Linked DNA regions of Homo sapiens: region 1 is linked to region 2. A link means that fine-mapping ties the variant in region 2 to the expression of a gene that starts in the linked region. Tissue or cell type: whole blood. Region 2 holds a variant in brackets; the other region holds the start of a gene. All regions are shown on one strand. Distances are between the middles of the regions.

What was found. PIP is the estimated chance that this variant, and not a neighbour inherited with it, causes the effect.
Region 1: GLUL starts here. The variant in region 2 is fine-mapped to the expression of GLUL in whole blood (TOPMed, PIP above 0.99).

The regions. Positions count from the first base shown.
Region 1 is chr1:182,387,432-182,395,537 of GRCh38, reverse strand. GLUL (glutamate-ammonia ligase) reads left to right here and starts at 3,748. Exons shown (of 7, transcript NM_001033044.4): 1 at 3,748-3,859; 2 at 6,788-6,966. The coding sequence starts at 6,801. RefSeq lists a silencer at 3,333-4,012.
Region 2 is chr1:182,230,904-182,239,012 of GRCh38, reverse strand. All of the region lies in intron 2 of LINC01344 (long intergenic non-protein coding RNA 1344), which reads left to right. Among named protein-coding and RNA genes, the nearest start is that of LINC01344, 79 kb to the left of the region's middle. The variant T/G (reference allele first, on the strand shown) is at 3,223.

The sequences.
Region 1 (8,106 bases), 160 kb before region 2:
ATTATTATTATTTTGATTTGGTTTAAGATTCTACTATGGTCCATTCTTTTGGAAAGAACTGATGTTGGTTTATTACATAATAATAATTTTTAAAAGAATATTTTACAATTCTGGGTTGGGTTTCCAGGGTGTTCCCCAACCCTGAGTCTCAATTGTATCTCTTTAACATGATTTAAAGGTCTCACTGAATGCCTATTGAAATCATTCATACACAGGGAAAACTCCATTTCCTAAACAGAAAAGGTTTGGTCAATGTGAGCCCTACCCTAAATTTTGTGTCTAATGTGTATAAGGCAACCACACAGGCCCTGGGAAGGCACTCCAGATCCCCAGGTAAAGGACTTCATACTTGCAGAGTGAGAATGGATCCTTTAAAAGACAGAGAAAGGGCCGGGCACAGTGGCTCACGCCTGTAATCGCAGCACTTTGGGAGGCCGAGGCAGGCGGATCACAAGGTCAGGAGTTCAAGACAAGTCTGGCCAATATGGTGAAACCTCGTCTCTACTAAAAATACCAAAAAATTAGCTGGGTGTGGTGGCACACGCCTGTAATCCCAGCTCCTTGGGAGGCTGAGGCAGGAGAATTGCTTGAACCCGGGAGGCAGAGGTTACAGTGAGTGGAGGTTGCAGTGAGCCGAGATTGCGCCACTGCATCCAGCCTGAGCAACAGAGTAAGACTCCGTCTCAAAAAAAAAAAAAAAAAAAAAAAAAAAAAAGAGAAAAGTTGTTTCCTAATAGAGATAAGATTTGGGAGTAGAGCAAAATCCTAATACAAAGCTTTTATTTCAGGCAGCAGAACAACATTGAAGAAATACTTTTAATCTCAGGCTATTTCTGCAGATTTGGAACAAAATCTTTCCCTGTAATTGCTCTCCCACTCCACCCACCCCTTGGACATGGCAATTCTACTCTAAGAGAGAAAAATATGACTTCAAAGCACATGCAATGGAACCCCTTGTCAGCACTGATATGGTGTGTACCAAGAAACAGAAAAGTTCATGGGTTCAAGCATTCTAATGCTCTTTTTATGGTGGGGGTGAAGAATGGGGGCGGGTGGCAATTTAGGGAAGAAGGGGAAGGAGAAGAAAGGGCAGCAGACACAGCAAAGTCAAACTGGATGAAACAGGCTGTTTTACTTTTAACTTCTCTAAAAGTACAGTCTGGGTTTCTGCGGGTGAACCAGTTAAGGGTTTTCTTCTGCTTTTACTTCTCGCCTATGCTCAAGCCTCCCTGGTCAGTTCTTGGACTCATCTGCGCCCTAATTTCATCATTTTAAGTAAATGTGGGGCTGGCCAAGGAGGACAAGGCCTCTTGTTCACTCCTGAAAGAGTCAGTGGTCATGTATTATGTTCCTAACCCTTACAAAGCGTGCCCCTGGTCACATGAATGGATCAAAGCAAATCCATTTCCATTCTTGGAAAAGCAGCTCAAAGCACATGTTCTCTTGATGGTGCTGCTGTCACTTCTGTGTGGTTAACAAATATCATTTATTGAACACTCACCGTGGACACTACTGGGGGATATGACAATGAATAAACTGCTCAATGAGGTCAAGACATCTAGGAAGGGAAGCAGGCACTCAAATGGCAGAAATACCATAAGCCTGCAGAACCGCACTCACGCCTTACCATTCCGTTCTCTGTTATGTTTGTCATCCCCACCTCAGGGGCTGGTGGTGTGTGCAGCAGAGGCTCTGGCTTATGGTTCGGTAGTTTGGTATCTGGAAATGATTAATAACATCTTTTAAAATAAAAATATCACTTTTCTCCTCCTTTGCTCCCCTTCCTCGACCATTTAAACTCAAACCTTTACAGAAAGAGATGAAGACAGCTCACTGTGTTACCAAGGTTAAGTCCAGTTTGATATAATGAATGGTAAAGCATTACACTGAGTCAGAAAAGTTGTATTCAAAAGTCGCTATGGGGAAAGAAAGAATCCAATCACCTCAGATTATAGAACTTGGCCTATGATAATTATAATTGCTGTTTTCTAAACATTTACGATGCACCAAGGACTACTCAATCTCTTCTGCATGTGCTATCACAATTAATCCTTTTATGAGGTAAAAATGATTATCCCTCTTTTATTATAGACAAAGAAACAGGCTTCATGTGGCTAAGTGATTTGGCCAACACAAAGCTGGTATGAAGGGAAAGCCCAGATTTGAACCTAGGTTTACCTGACTTGCAGCCGTGCCTTTAGCCACCACAATGTAATGCTTCAAGGGGCAGCACTGAAATTTAACAAGGAATTTGTAAGGCACCTTACCCAATCCAAAATGTCACCAGTCTGAAACATCCCAAAAAACCCTGTTTGAGATGAATGCTGCATCTGTCATGTAAAAGCACTACAGTGTTATACACTCTTAAAGGAAAGGGATGTTGACCAAAGAAGCCAAGTTATGTGTGTGTGGTTGCAGGCAACATTTCTTTTCCACATTTGCGGTACAAAACATAACCAGAACAAACTTCTTCCCTTCCTCTTCCAAAGGCACTGGAAGCATAAATTCTTGCTCTTTAAACTGAAAGAAGCAATAAAATCTGGACACCATCAGGTAGATTTCAGGCACTAAAAATAGAATGATCGAGTAATAGTACGGATAGCAGTATCTACCTACCTACCTACCTACCTACCTATGTTGTGTCTCTAGGTACATTTCAATATTGTGTTCACATACACATTTTCCCAACCATCACGGCAAGCTGAGAGGAGAGGTATGTATTCCCATTTTCCAGATTAACAAGAAGCCGCACTTGATAAAGCAAAATCAGGGAGAATTCGTTAAAGGAATTTCTTGACAATCCCTGGACTTCAAAGGGGGCAAGTGAACACCTCGATTTCCTTTCAGCTGCTCCGGGGGCAGTTTGCACACAGAATTTCAAATCTAGTGGGCGGCTCCACAGGTCATTTTCGATGACCACTTTATTTTGCAGATGAGGAAACTTGGGCCCTGAAAGACCTGCCTAGGGTCTGGCCAGCAGTATGAGACAGGTCTCCAGACTTAGTTTCTACCGCCCTCCAGAATCCTCTCTGTAAAATTAGAGAAACAGCACGTTGATTTCAAATGTGAAATGGCAGAGTTCTGTTTATTTCCCCAGACCCAAGAGAGCCGGAGCGGGCGGCTCTTCCAGGCCTTGGGAACCCCGGCCTGTCCCCAGGCCCGCGCGGCACCCGCCCTAGCCCAGGCCCGCCCAAAGTTCCCTCGGGTCCCGCGCCCCGCGCTCCCTCTCAAGCTAACCCCTGCCCGCAGGAAGCGGGGCTCGGAGGCTCCCTCGCAACAAAAGGCTAAATTCGGTTTCCCTGGTTCCGCATTTCCCCAGGGAGCTCTCCTCGTAAAACTATTCCCCGTGAAGGCGGCAGGGCAGAGGTCCAGGGCGGGCTTTGCTGGGAGCCTCGGGACCCCGGGTTGGGGGCCGTGGGGCGGCACCTGGCGAGCTGGCGGGTGGGCGGCGAGCCGAGGCTTCCCGGCCTGGCGGCAACTCGCCCCTCTGCCCTCAGCCCTCCCGGCTCCGCTCCCTTCCCCCACGCCGCCCTGCCCCTCCCCCACGCCCCTTTCTCTTTCTTTCTTTCTTTCCCAGTTCGCTTGCCCCCACCCCAGCGGCGCCCGCCGGGCTCCTCGCCCAATGGCCGCGGGGCCCGGGACCGCATCAGCTGATCGGCCCGGGCTCCTGGCCGCTGGGAGCCAATCAGGGCACCGGGGGCGGCCCCGGGCCGCGGATAAAGGGTGCGGGGCTGCTGGCGGCTCTGCAGAGTCGAGAGTGGGAGAAGAGCGGAGCGTGTGAGCAGTACTGCGGCCTCCTCTCCTCTCCTAACCTCGCTCTCGCGGCCTAGCTTTACCCGCCCGCCTGCTCGGCGACCAGGTAAGCCCCCGGACGGCCCGGTGTCACGCAAGCGAGGCGCGCCGCCCCTGCTACCCCGCGAGGCGCGCCGCCCAGCCTCTTTTTTCGGCTGCCTGCCCCTCCAGTCCCAGCCCTACGCTGCGGCCTCTCCGGCCCATGCCTGAGATCCGGCATGAGTGCTCCTCCCGCGTGCTTCCGCCGCTGGTGGCTTGGACCCGTCGGGGCTGGCGCTGGTGGGGCGCGCCCTTGGCCAGGCTCTGGGAAGGGCGGGGTGAGTTGTTTTGATCTTCTTTTCACTACTTGCGGCCGAAGCGCCGCCCCTGGAGGCCGTTGGGCCGGCCTGCGCCCTGGGGCTCGCAGTGGTTTGTTTGCGCTGTGGATGGAGTGGCGGTGCGGTCCCCTGTGGAGCGCAAACAAGGCGCTTGGTTGGCGCGGGCGCCTGGCTGCCTTCCTCGTGGTGGGGCCTTCGGAGCAATCGTCCTGGTTCTGGCGATGGTTGAGACGCCTCGATTGCGGCGTGTAACGGTGAGCGTTGTTTGGGCGGCCGGCTCCCGCCTCGGGGTCCCGGGGGCCTTCCAATGTGACCGAACAATGGAGAGCCCGGGCCTCGGCGCAGTCAGTGGAGAAGCCGGTCCGGGCGGAGGCAGCAGCAGCGCGCAGTCCCTACGGCCTGCGCCCCCACCCTCCCCCGGACCCCCCAACCCCTCGGCGGCAGGGTATGGCCACCTCCGTGAGGCCCTGAGATTCGGACGGGGGCCCGAGGGGCAGGGCGCCCACTTTAGGGACATTTCAGTGGGAAGGGGCTGCTCTCAAAGTGGATAATTATAACTCCCTCGGGGGCGGGAAGCGGGGATCCTCCCCCAGCCGCAAGTCCACGAAGAAAGCAACGAATGAAAATTATGAAGACAACGAGAAGTCAGACTCCTCCGGGTCGCGCTCCAGCTGCTTCGGCTTCGTCGCCTACTCTGTGAACTCCGGGGAGAGATCTCGAGTCAAGATTAAGACCTTAACCCACCAACCTGCCTGTTCGGACACCCCCCGGGCCGGCCGCTGTCTGTCCCCTTCTCCATCGCCCTCTCCCAGAAAGCTCCGGTGCTTGGACCAGCTAGAGTCTGAGAAAGAGGAGAGGCGCGAACGCCACTCCAAAAAGAGAAGGGTTAAAGAGGGCAACCCTAACGATACGCTTGACTTTCTGTGGCTGGGGTGAGTGAGGGGGCAGGGAGGACGACCCCGGAGTTGGTGGGAGCTGCAGAAACTGCTGAAAACTTCAGAATCCATTTCCCCCACGTAAACTTGGCACCGCAGCAGCAGCAGTTGATAGAGTGGCACTAGGCTGCTGGCATGCAACTCGGCTCACGGAAAAGAGCAAGAGATCCGAAACTGAGGCTTAGGACAAAGTGTGCATGATATTGGTGGTGTAACATGTTGGAGAGGACAGCCGAGAAATTGGGTTGTAGGTTTTTTTTTTTTGTTTTCCGACAGAGTCTCTATCTGTTACCCAGGTTGGAGTGCAGTGGTGCAATCTCCCGGCTCACTGCAACCTCTGCCTCTGGGGTTCAGGCGATTCTCCTGTGTCAGCCTCCCGAGTAGCTGGGATTACAGGCGTGCACAACCACGCCCGGCTAATTTTTGTATTTTTAGTAGAGACGGGAGTTTCATCGTGTTGGCCAGGCTGGTCTCGAACTTTGTACCTCAGGTGATCTGCCCGCTTCGGTGGGTTGTAGCTTTTAGCGGGAGCTAAAGGGTTCTGGGATGGAGGTGGGAAGTAGGATTTGGCCGGCTGAGTCTTCTAGAGGCAATATTGGGGTGTTGGTCTTCCCCAAGGGGAAGGGTGGTGAGGCTGAGGGAGAAGCAGTTATGTTTTCAGCTGGGCAAACATGGACGGTTGCCCGTAGAAACTTTGCCACTGTACTTCAGAACGTTGCCCTAGTCGTTGGAGGAGAACAATGTGTTCCCTTTCTAGCCACCCTGGTCCACGGAGGGAGGAGGGAGAGAGAGAATGTTTCCTCTTCGGCTGTTGTGGCTTGAGAGTTTCTCTTCTTTCGGAGGTTTTGTGGTAGTGGCTGGCAGTTATTAGTATGCCTCATGGCTTTTAAATTTCCAGATCTTTTTGATTTAGAAGTGGAAATTTCCTAATTACTTGACAAGTCTTGTAGAATTCCATAATGTTGTGATTCTTGCCCACTATCTTAAGTGAGACTTTGCATGAGACCTATGGAAATTATGGCAGCATTCCCCTTAGAATCTGGCTTGAATCAGCTTTTGTGTAGGAAACTGCTAGCCTTCTAAAAAAATATATTGTAACCTTGTTTCATCCTCAAATCTAAATGTGTAATGAGTTTTCTTTTGGTGGGGAGGGGCGGTGGGTTTGAGTTAAGACCACAGCTAGGATGAAAGACAAAGAGAAAAACAAACTGTGGAAGCCAAGCCTGTTCTGTGGCTGGATTTTACTTATATTGGAAGAAGTTCTATGTTTTGTAAATTTGTGTATTGGTTTTGATTTGTTTCCTCTGATAGTTTAGTATTTGGATAGTTTAGTGTTAACCTCAGCTACACTGAAGGAATAGACCTTAGTCCTCACAAGTATAAGTTCTAGCTTGGAAGCCTGGGTTCTGCAGTAGCTGTGGAACTTAAGCCTGTGAGCTCAGGGATGCAGAGGCATTGAGTTACTACCAAGGGCCTGATCTTTTCTTTAGCAGGCATCTGTGTTAATTGTTTCAAAAGGTGGTGATCAGTTTTACAGCCTATTATAAAGGAGATTTTTGCCTACTATAAAACTAATCCCCCTGAAAGAGTGAGTAAACATAACTTTTTGTGTGTTGACTTCCACAAGGGAAGGAGTTGGCACTTACACTCTGACTTTTGATTCAGTCGTCCTTCTTGAGCCATTTTTGCAGGGGATCAGTTTGGAGTGGGCGTTAACAATGTTATTCTTTTTTTCTTCTCCAGAACACCTTCCACCATGACCACCTCAGCAAGTTCCCACTTAAATAAAGGCATCAAGCAGGTGTACATGTCCCTGCCTCAGGGTGAGAAAGTCCAGGCCATGTATATCTGGATCGATGGTACTGGAGAAGGACTGCGCTGCAAGACCCGGACCCTGGACAGTGAGCCCAAGTGTGTGGAAGGTGAGACAGCAATGTGGAGTGGAGCACATGCTGGGTGGGATCTGCAGAGGGGTGGGCAGCAGCCTTTGACTCAGCCTCTGGATTAGGCCTCTTTCTTCTGTTTGTAAAGGTTTTCTAAGGCAGGGCTTTTCAGACTTTATTCAGTCAACATTAAGCTCCTACACTGCCTCAAAGCAGAGCGACGATGGAACCCTTTATTTCAATGGAATTGTGCACGTAGGCCAGTGTATTGAAGAAAAACTAAGTCTGGTTTATGGAGAGTTGGCATGGGGCTTAGAGGTTGCCGACCTGGACATCCCCACTTAGCTGGCTCTAAGGCACCCTCAGAAAACCACTGCTCTAACCTGAGAATGCCATCTAGTTTACAAACTCTTAGAAAACTGTGTTTAATACTCATATCACTGGCTTCTAGATGTGAAGCAAATGCTCTACAATGGTTTTTAAATAGGACTAATTTTTAGTTGATGCCACTTTTGGAAATTCTTAAACTAATTGCGTATCCCTCTAGGAGCTACAGTTAGATTATAGTTGTGACCTTCATTTTTCAGTCTAGAACAAGCCATAGTCTTCCCTCTTCTGGAAAGGGGCCAGAGGAAAGTATCATATCCTACCTAGTTTAGGGTAGTTTACTTTTCCTTTTTGAGTAAGTGAATGATCATAATACAAAGCCTATATTGTGTACTTGCTATGTGGCAGATGATAGTGCACAGACACTGAAGATACAAAGTGAGAGTCTCGTCTCTGCCTTCAGAGAACTCAGTCAGCTAGAGAGACCAAGCAGCCTTCAAAACAGTGGGAAAGGTGGATAGGTGATAAGGGAGCATCCTAGAGTAAGTCATCCTGCTAGTCGTCTGTTCCCTCATCTATAAAATAAGGACATAACTTGCCAGAATACACTGGGGGCATAAGAAGGATGCAACACATTACCTAATGGAAGAATCAGAATCCTTCACTATCTCAATATTTTAAGTGATTGATAGGATGGTAGTGATAACAGAATGCTTCAGCTTGTCTCCTGGAAGACATTTGGGAAGGGAGTATCTGATATATTTCTTTTAAGGAATTGGTACAATGGTCTTACTTGGAACTCAAATAGGAAGGGCTATAAGATCAGGTACAGGTGCCAGGGTATACATATTA
Region 2 (8,109 bases):
CTTCAGAGTTGAAATATGTAGTGGGAACATCTTTTCAAAAAACAAAAACCCTACTATAAAATATATTTTGTAATGAGGCAATCATACTTTTATTATTTTTCTATTTTGAACTTTCTTAAAGCAGGAGATGTTTGTGTTGGACAACCAACTTGTGTTGTGCCTTTTATATAATATTCTATATTATATTATATTATATTATATTATATTATATTATATTATAGGAAAGGAAAAACAAAGAAGGAAAAACAAAATACAAATCAACCACAGTAGAGCAAGAATATGCTCCTAAAAGTTGCCAACTGTGGTGGCAGGAGAGTGAGTGCAGGGTGCCCTCTACTCAGGCTAACAAGAGTTTTGAGGGGATGAACATTCAAACCACAGCAGGTGTCTCCTAAGCTTGCAAAGCAGAGTGGCAATGCAGAAATTCCATGACATGGAAGCCAGACCAACTTGAGTGGGTTGATCTTCATTCATCTTTAATCACGTTCCCAGAACTACTGTTCCTCTCTTGATTATAAAATGTGTAGTATCCACCTGGCAGGACTATTTAAATGTTAAATGAAATAATAATATTCTATATTATGTTATATATAAAATTATATATATTCTATATTATATTATATAAAAGTTGGTTGTCCAACATAAGCATCTCCTGCTTTAGGAAAAGAGGAATATAATATTCATCTAATAAAATGGAAAGTCCTAAATAAAGTATGTTTACTTTGTTAGCTTCTCTAATAAAATCTCAAATCCAGAATAATATCTTGGTCCATACATCAAGTCGGTGAAATAATACCATAGAATCAGAAAATAGAAAATGGTAACCAGTGCTCCATTAGGGAAGAATTCTACATTTGCGATCACAGAGTCGCTTCTAATTAATTGGTTTTGACTTTAGACATATTGTTTCACTCTTCTGGCCTCAGATTCTACATCTGGAAGATGAAGGGGTTATAGCTGATGGTCTCTGTACATTCCCCTCTAGCTTTCAAGTTCAGTAAGATAATGGGTCTTGAAGGTATATTTACAACCAGCCCATCCTTTCCTTCTTGGTCAATAATCCCCAGCTGTCATTCTCACCTGCTAGTTGTCCCTTAACTTCAATTTCCCACTCTTCCCTATAGGATCTTAGAAATACTAAAGGGAACATCTAATATTCACAATTCCTGGGCCTGAGCACCCCCTGGGCACACAGAGATAAACTGCTATAGCCCTGGAAGAAATCAGGGCTCTGGGAAGCCGGGGTCTAACTAAAGTTAGCACCAAATCCCTGAACTTCCCTGTGTGTACTATGAGACAAGAACTGTGGGACTTTCCTGACTTGGGCAGGAAAGGAGCTTGGAAGAATGAGAGGGACTGGGTGGCAAGCTCTATCATCAAACAGGCGCTGCAGGGGCTCTGCAGGGCTGTCCCCAGACAGGTACATTTGGAAGGGAGGGAGATGAGGTAGGGACTTGGCAGATGCCCAGTGGGTGTAAGTCAGTGGCCACACAGTGAGTGTACAGGGGCTAAAGGGCAGCCACTTGAAAAAATGTGCTGTTCAACTGAATAAGTTCACAAGGAACAATCCAAAGATTACTAAATATCAATTATTTGTGTTGCCTGAATTGTCCTCCAATCCCAATAAATATCATGCGTGCATTTCAACAGGGATTTTATCTTCGTGTATTTACCATTTTTGATGCTTTCTTTCATTTCTTTTACTGGTTTGTATACACACCTTCTGCGTTTGTAGGCCATATAACCATTATTTTAAGCCTTTTAGGATATGGCTGTCCTGTAGTGAGGCACTTTTTGTAGAGTATGTGCATGAGCCTGCGTATGTGTGTGGTGTGTGTGCGCTGCGTATGTTTGTGTCTGTGTGTGTATATGTGTGTGTGGTGTACGTAAGTGTCTTCATGTGTTTCCGTGTATGGTGTATGTGTTGCACGTGGTGATGTGTTGGGTGTGCACGTTTGTGTGTGCATATGTGTGGTATATGGTGTTTCTCTGGGTCTTTGCATGGTGTGTCTCTCTGTGTATTTGTGTTACATATGTTTGTGGCTCTGTGGGTGTTTATTGGGTTGTGTATGTGTGTAGTGTGTATGTTTGTGTGTGTTGTATGTGTGGTGTGTGTGTCTCTCTGTGTTTGTGTGTGGTGTGTATATTTGTATCTGTGTGTATGTGTGATGTGTCTCTCTGCGTGTGGTCTATTTGTGTGTGTATTTGTGCTGTGTATATTTGCAACTCTGTGGGTGTTTATGTGGGCTGTGCATGTGTGTAGTGTGCATGTTTGTGTCTGTGTGTGTGTGATGTATGTGTCTGTGTGTGCTGTGTCTATCTGTGTGTGTATTTGTGCTATGTATGTGTGTGGCTTTGTGGGTTGTATATGTGTATGAGTTAACTCCTGTGTGCAGACTGCAGCCCCTCAGGCCTAGACTCTGGGCTCTTCTCTCAGGCCTTAGCATCTATGCCAGGCAACTGAGATTTCTCAGGCACTCCTGGGAACTGTGCCTCATGTCCCAGAGAGCGTGTGGAAAGCACTCTCTGCGGCAGGTGTCTGACAGCCTGCAGGGTTGCTATGTGCCTAGGGTGTGGCACACAACCCCTCTGCGGAGGATGAGTGCCTGTGGTTATCAGCAGAGTCAGTGCACTGAAGAGGCCATTATCACGGGCACCGGAGTGCATGAATCATGGGGTATGTCATTTTCTATTTTAGGAAGAAAAAGAAAACATCTCGAGCGAATCAATCAATTCTCATTAGGCCCATTCATAGCCACATTGCCTGGTCCTCTTTCAGGGGCTGGAAGAAGTGGCCCACATCCAAATCCACCATTCAATCCGTAGGCCTTTGCCCCATATTCCGGCCCCATTTCCTTGCTTGATGTGTGCACACAGCTCTGCCTCATGCTGTGAGTGTGCATACCTCCTCCGTGTCCCTCAGTCAGCCTCCTGCCTCCTGACTTGGGTCGCACTCAGGAGGTAAAGACACTTTCTCTAGGCCACAGCATTCTAAGTTGGTGTAATTTTCTGTTTAAACTCATGATGAATGAACTCTAACATTCATTCAGTAGGTGTGGCCACATGCAGAGTTAGGCATTCAAGATGCAGGGAGGATTAGAAAAAATGGTAGTTAAGGGCATAGACTTTGATTAAGATAGAACCTGTTTACATTGCTTCTTCACCCCTTCCTCTGTGACCCGGGGCAGACAAGGTAACTTCCTGAAGGCTCTGCTTCCTCAT[T/G]TGTGAAATGGGCACTTACCTAACTGTGGTGCTGTGAGGCCAATGACAGCTGAAAGTGCCAGCTGTGGTGTGGATGGTCACTCAACCTTCATTCCTGCCTCTTGCTGGGTGAAGTTGGAAAGCTGAGCACCATGATTCCAAGGCTCCTTTGCAGTCGGGGTTCTAGAAGCAAGCTGTCTTCTGCCAAGTAGAGGCACTCAGTGCAAGATGTGCAAAGCAGAAGCTGCACCCCTTTGTAGCCATTTTGCTGGCCAGCAAAGCTGGGGAAATAGGAGGTTTTTCTGCATCAGAGTTCCAGAGTCCATTCTCCAGCTTCTTGGGTATCGAGAGGCAGGAATTGTAGCAGAGGCAGCAGTCACTTCTGGATTCCAGCACAGCTCCAGAGGTGCCCTAGAGGTGGTGGTTAATTTCTATACTGCTTTGTGAGCCCCAGCCTAGAACCTGCTCCTTCAGCCCTTCTAACCGTTTTGCAAGCACATTATCCCTTGACTAAATCCCTTCCTACTCAATGTAAGTGAAGCAATTTCTGTTTCCTGCACTGAATCCTAACAGATAAAGCTATTATTATTTGTATACAGAAGAACAAGTTAAAGTAATAGCAGCTGCCACATATTGGTTATACCATAAGTCCAGATTTTTATAGATGGTATCTAATTTCATTCTCCCAGAAAAATCACACAGCCCCTGAAGGGTCTAATCAGAGTGTGAACCTAGGTTTCTCTGGCACCAAAGGCGGGGTGCCAAACCATTATACTCCTCTGTTCATGCTCTGGAAGAGCTCGCAGGTCAGGAAGGATGCATTCTGGTGAATAAATGGCTACAGTGCAGTGAGAGAGATGCTGAAAAAAACTGTGGGCCCAGGCCTATGGAGCCCAGATGAGAAAATGCCTAACTCTGCCTAGCCTCGGAAGTCCAAGATGGAGTGTGATTCCCACCTTGGCAAGGAATCATGACCTCCAGGCTCCTTAAGATGTTGGGGACCTCTGCCTTGAAGCTCCAATATCCTGTTTCTCAAGAAACCATGATTTAGGAACTCCACAGAAGGAAGAAAGAAAGGGAAAAAGGAGAGAGGGAGGGAGAAAGCGAAGCAGGGAGGGAGGGAGGGAGGGAGGGAGCCCTAGCCTGCAGCGGCATTTGGCTACCTGGGGGGCTGAACCCTTTGTATCCTATTCTCAGCTCTTTTACCCAGGCTTTCAGGTACCATGGTTTTCTCACACACCTGGCCTTGCATAGATTGTACCACTCCTCACCCTTTTCTAGCACCTGGAAAATGGGTTTGCCTTTATTTGGTGGTTCCTTTTAATGTCTATCTTTTCAGGAATTGAGATAATTTTTCCTCCACCCTAATTTAAAGGCTTATGAACATATGTAAAAGCTTAGGAGTACCAATGTGTTTCTGAAAGGTTTTTTGTTTGTTTGTTTGTTTGTTTGTTTGTTTGTTTTGAGAAGGAGTCTTGCTCTGTCACCCAGGCTGGAGTGCAGTGGCACGATCTCGGTTCAGTGCAACCTCTGCTTCCCGGGTTCAAGCAATTGCCTGCCTCAGCCTCCCGAGTTGCTGGGATTACAGGCGCCCACCACCATGCCCAACTAATTTCTGTATTTTTAGTAGAGACGGGGTTTCACCATCTTGGCCAGGCTAGTCTTGAACCCCTGACATCATGATCCACCTGCCTCGGGCTCCCAAAGTGCTGGGATTACAGGTTTGAGCCACCACGCCTGGCCTGAAAGGTCTTTTAATACTGAAAAAACAAACAAACAAACAAACCAAAAAAAAACCAAGACTTATTCAGCTGCATCTCTAAATGAAACATGCATCCCAGCAAACAATCATAGCTGGCCTCCCTTATTAGGGACCTGGAGATCCTAGGCTATAGGAAATACATATCCTTTGCATTTGTATGCTTGAAATTTACAAAACAATTTTTAGTTGTTTTGTTTTTTAACTCTCAACTGATTTTTTAAAAAAAGATACAACCGATTGTTTGATCTGCTGCCTGCAAGATATTTTGAATAGGCACACTATTCCTGTTTCAGAGGAGTAGGTTGAAGCCAGAGTCCCACATCTTGTAAGTGACGGAGTTAATTGATGACTCTGAATTAGTGCATTTCCCTATTTTCCTTGAAAGTAAACCTTTCCCCAGAGCTGCTGGAATAAAAGGTATGGGGGTCTCTTTTTTGCTCTTCCTCTGCCTACCTGAAGCATGTGTGAGGAGCTGGCTCTGTTTCCCTGGCTGGAACCTGGAGCAGGAAGTCCCAACCTGTGGCATCAGCTCTGGAAGTAGAAGCAGGGTCCTGTGGAGGAGGTGGTTCCAGATGTAGGGCCTCTGATTTCTTGCCTCTCAGCTCCCTCATTTTCAGGGTTTGCTACCACCCCCTAATTTCCAGGTAATGGTCTTGTAAAATTTTATGAATTGGACCATCAGGAGTGATGTGGTTAGGTTTTATGTACCCACCCAAATCTCAGCTTGAATTAGAATTCCCATAATCCCCAGGTGTCAAGGGAGAGACCAGGTGGAGGTAATTGAATCATATGGGTGGTTTCCCCCATGTTGTTCTCGTGATAGTGAGTGAGTTCTCACGAGATCTGATGGTTTTATAAGGGGATCTTCCTCCATTGCTCTCCTTTCTGCAGTCTGGTGAAGAAGGTACATTTCTTCTCCTTCGTCTTCCGCTATGATTGCATGTTTTCTGTGAGGCCTCCCGAGCCATGCTGAACTGTGAGTCTGTTAAACCTCTTTTCTTTATAAATTACCCAGTCTTGGACAGCTCTTTATAGCAGTTATAAAACGGACTAATACAAGGAGCCTAAACCTTGAGCACATTTTCTAATTTCTAGCCCCTGGGTAACTGGCTCCTCTCTCCACATTTAGCCCCATGCCCATGTTCAGACCCTTAGCAGAGCCCTGGGCATGGGGCCAAGGAATTGCAGAAGATTCTGGTCCCAGGACAACTGTTAAATGATTTCAGAAAGGTAAAGACCACCACATATGTGCACCTCAAAATAGTTTCAGGACACACAGGACCTCAAATACCACAGTGTTTTATAGAGGGCACAAAAAGGGGGCTTAGAAATTATTAAGCCTTCAGAAGAAAAGATGATAGGAGGGAAGTAACAGTGGAGATAATGAAGCATTTGTAAGATAATGATATCAAAAATCACATTCAAATAGTATTTGCTGATTTCAAAAGCTTTCTCACCTATATTATTTCATGTAATTCTCAAAGTAATAGTCTAAAGCTGGGTGCTGTGACATGCTCCTAAAGTCCCAGCTACTTGGGAGGCTGAAGTAGGAAGATCATTTGAGCCCAGAAGTTCTAGGCTGTGGTGTGCTATGAATAGCCACTGCACTCCAGCCTGGGCAACACGGCAGGACCCTGTATCTTAAAAAAAAAAAAAAAAAAAAAAAGTAACAGCCTTGCGAAGTAGGCAGAGCAGACATTACCATGCCAGTGTAAAAGACAAAAAGCCTGAAGCTTGGGGTTGGGGTCTTCTGATCCCAAATCTAAATCTCCAGTGAAAATTAGGAGCAATATTGTATATAGCAACATCAATTTAAAAAAAAACTCTAATGTCCCAATTACCTGATTCTGGTTTCTGCCTGCTCAGTCTCCTGCAAATTCCCTCTTGATTGGTCCTCGGAGTCCCCAAGAGGTATTTCACGTGTGTGCTCAGGAATAAGTTTCCCTTCCGATGGCTTCCCTGGTTCTGGGGCCCTGATGAATGTCATACTGCCCTGGATCACTGCCCAGACCCCACTATGTGGCCATCACCTCCCTAGAGCAGTCCTCTTTCCTGTAGCCACAGGCCCCACCCTTTTTCTGGTAGCATTCACTTCCATTCCCCGGGATGTCAAGGTTATTTGGTGGTCTATGGCAGAACAGGAGAGAGTGGCTCTCTCTTCATGGAATTACACTTTGTTAGAGGCTCCCAGAGCAGTGTTAACATGATTCCAATGTGAGAGAGGTTAACTCAGACACCTAGGTCAGTTTTTATCTCTCCAGGGGGAGGGCTTGGGATGGATGCATTTAACAGCCATGCAATTCTGTAAAGTTCCACTCAGTATCTTTCCTCTGGGGCTTTATTCCTACCCTCTCAGTCTCTGTCAGTTTCTTAGTCAACTCAGGAACCAAATGGAGTCAAGTGCATATTTTGGATGAATTCTTTGTTGCTCAAAACTGAGGAATCAAGCAGAGTGGGACAACTCATTGTTCCTTAATCTCTTAATGCTACTATTTGGGTAGAGAGGAACTCTTGTCTTAATCCCCGATACATCAGTGTAGTTTGAAGCACTCGCAATCCAGTGACGAAGAAGATGGGCACAGTTCCTGCTGCCTTGGATGCTTCAGTCTGAGAGGTCGATGGTACCGTGCCTGCTTTCTTCTTTAGGATGAATGTTTCATGGGAAGCTTATCTAGATTATTCACTCTCCTCCTACTCCCCTACCTGTATCCTCCACCCACGCTCCCAATTTACAAAAAAAATTTTTTTAACTGAATTTTTATTTTAGATAATTGCCAATTAATGTGCAGATGTAAGAAATATTATAGAGAGATCCTTTGTATCACTTATCCAGTTTCCTCCCGTGGTAACATCTTGCAAAATTATAGAATAATATCACAACCAGGATATTGACATTGGCACAGTCAAGATACAGAACAGGCCAGGCACAGTGGCTCATGCCTGTAATCCTGGCACTTTGGGAGGCTGAGGTGGGAGGATGGCTTGAGCCCAGGAGGTCGAGGCTGCAGTGAGCCATGATTGCACCACTGCACCCAGGCTGGGTGACACGGCAAGACTTCGTTTCAAAAAAAAAAAAAAGAAAGAAGAAAAGATACAGAACATTTCCATCACTACAAAGATACCTCATATTGCCCTTTTATACCCAC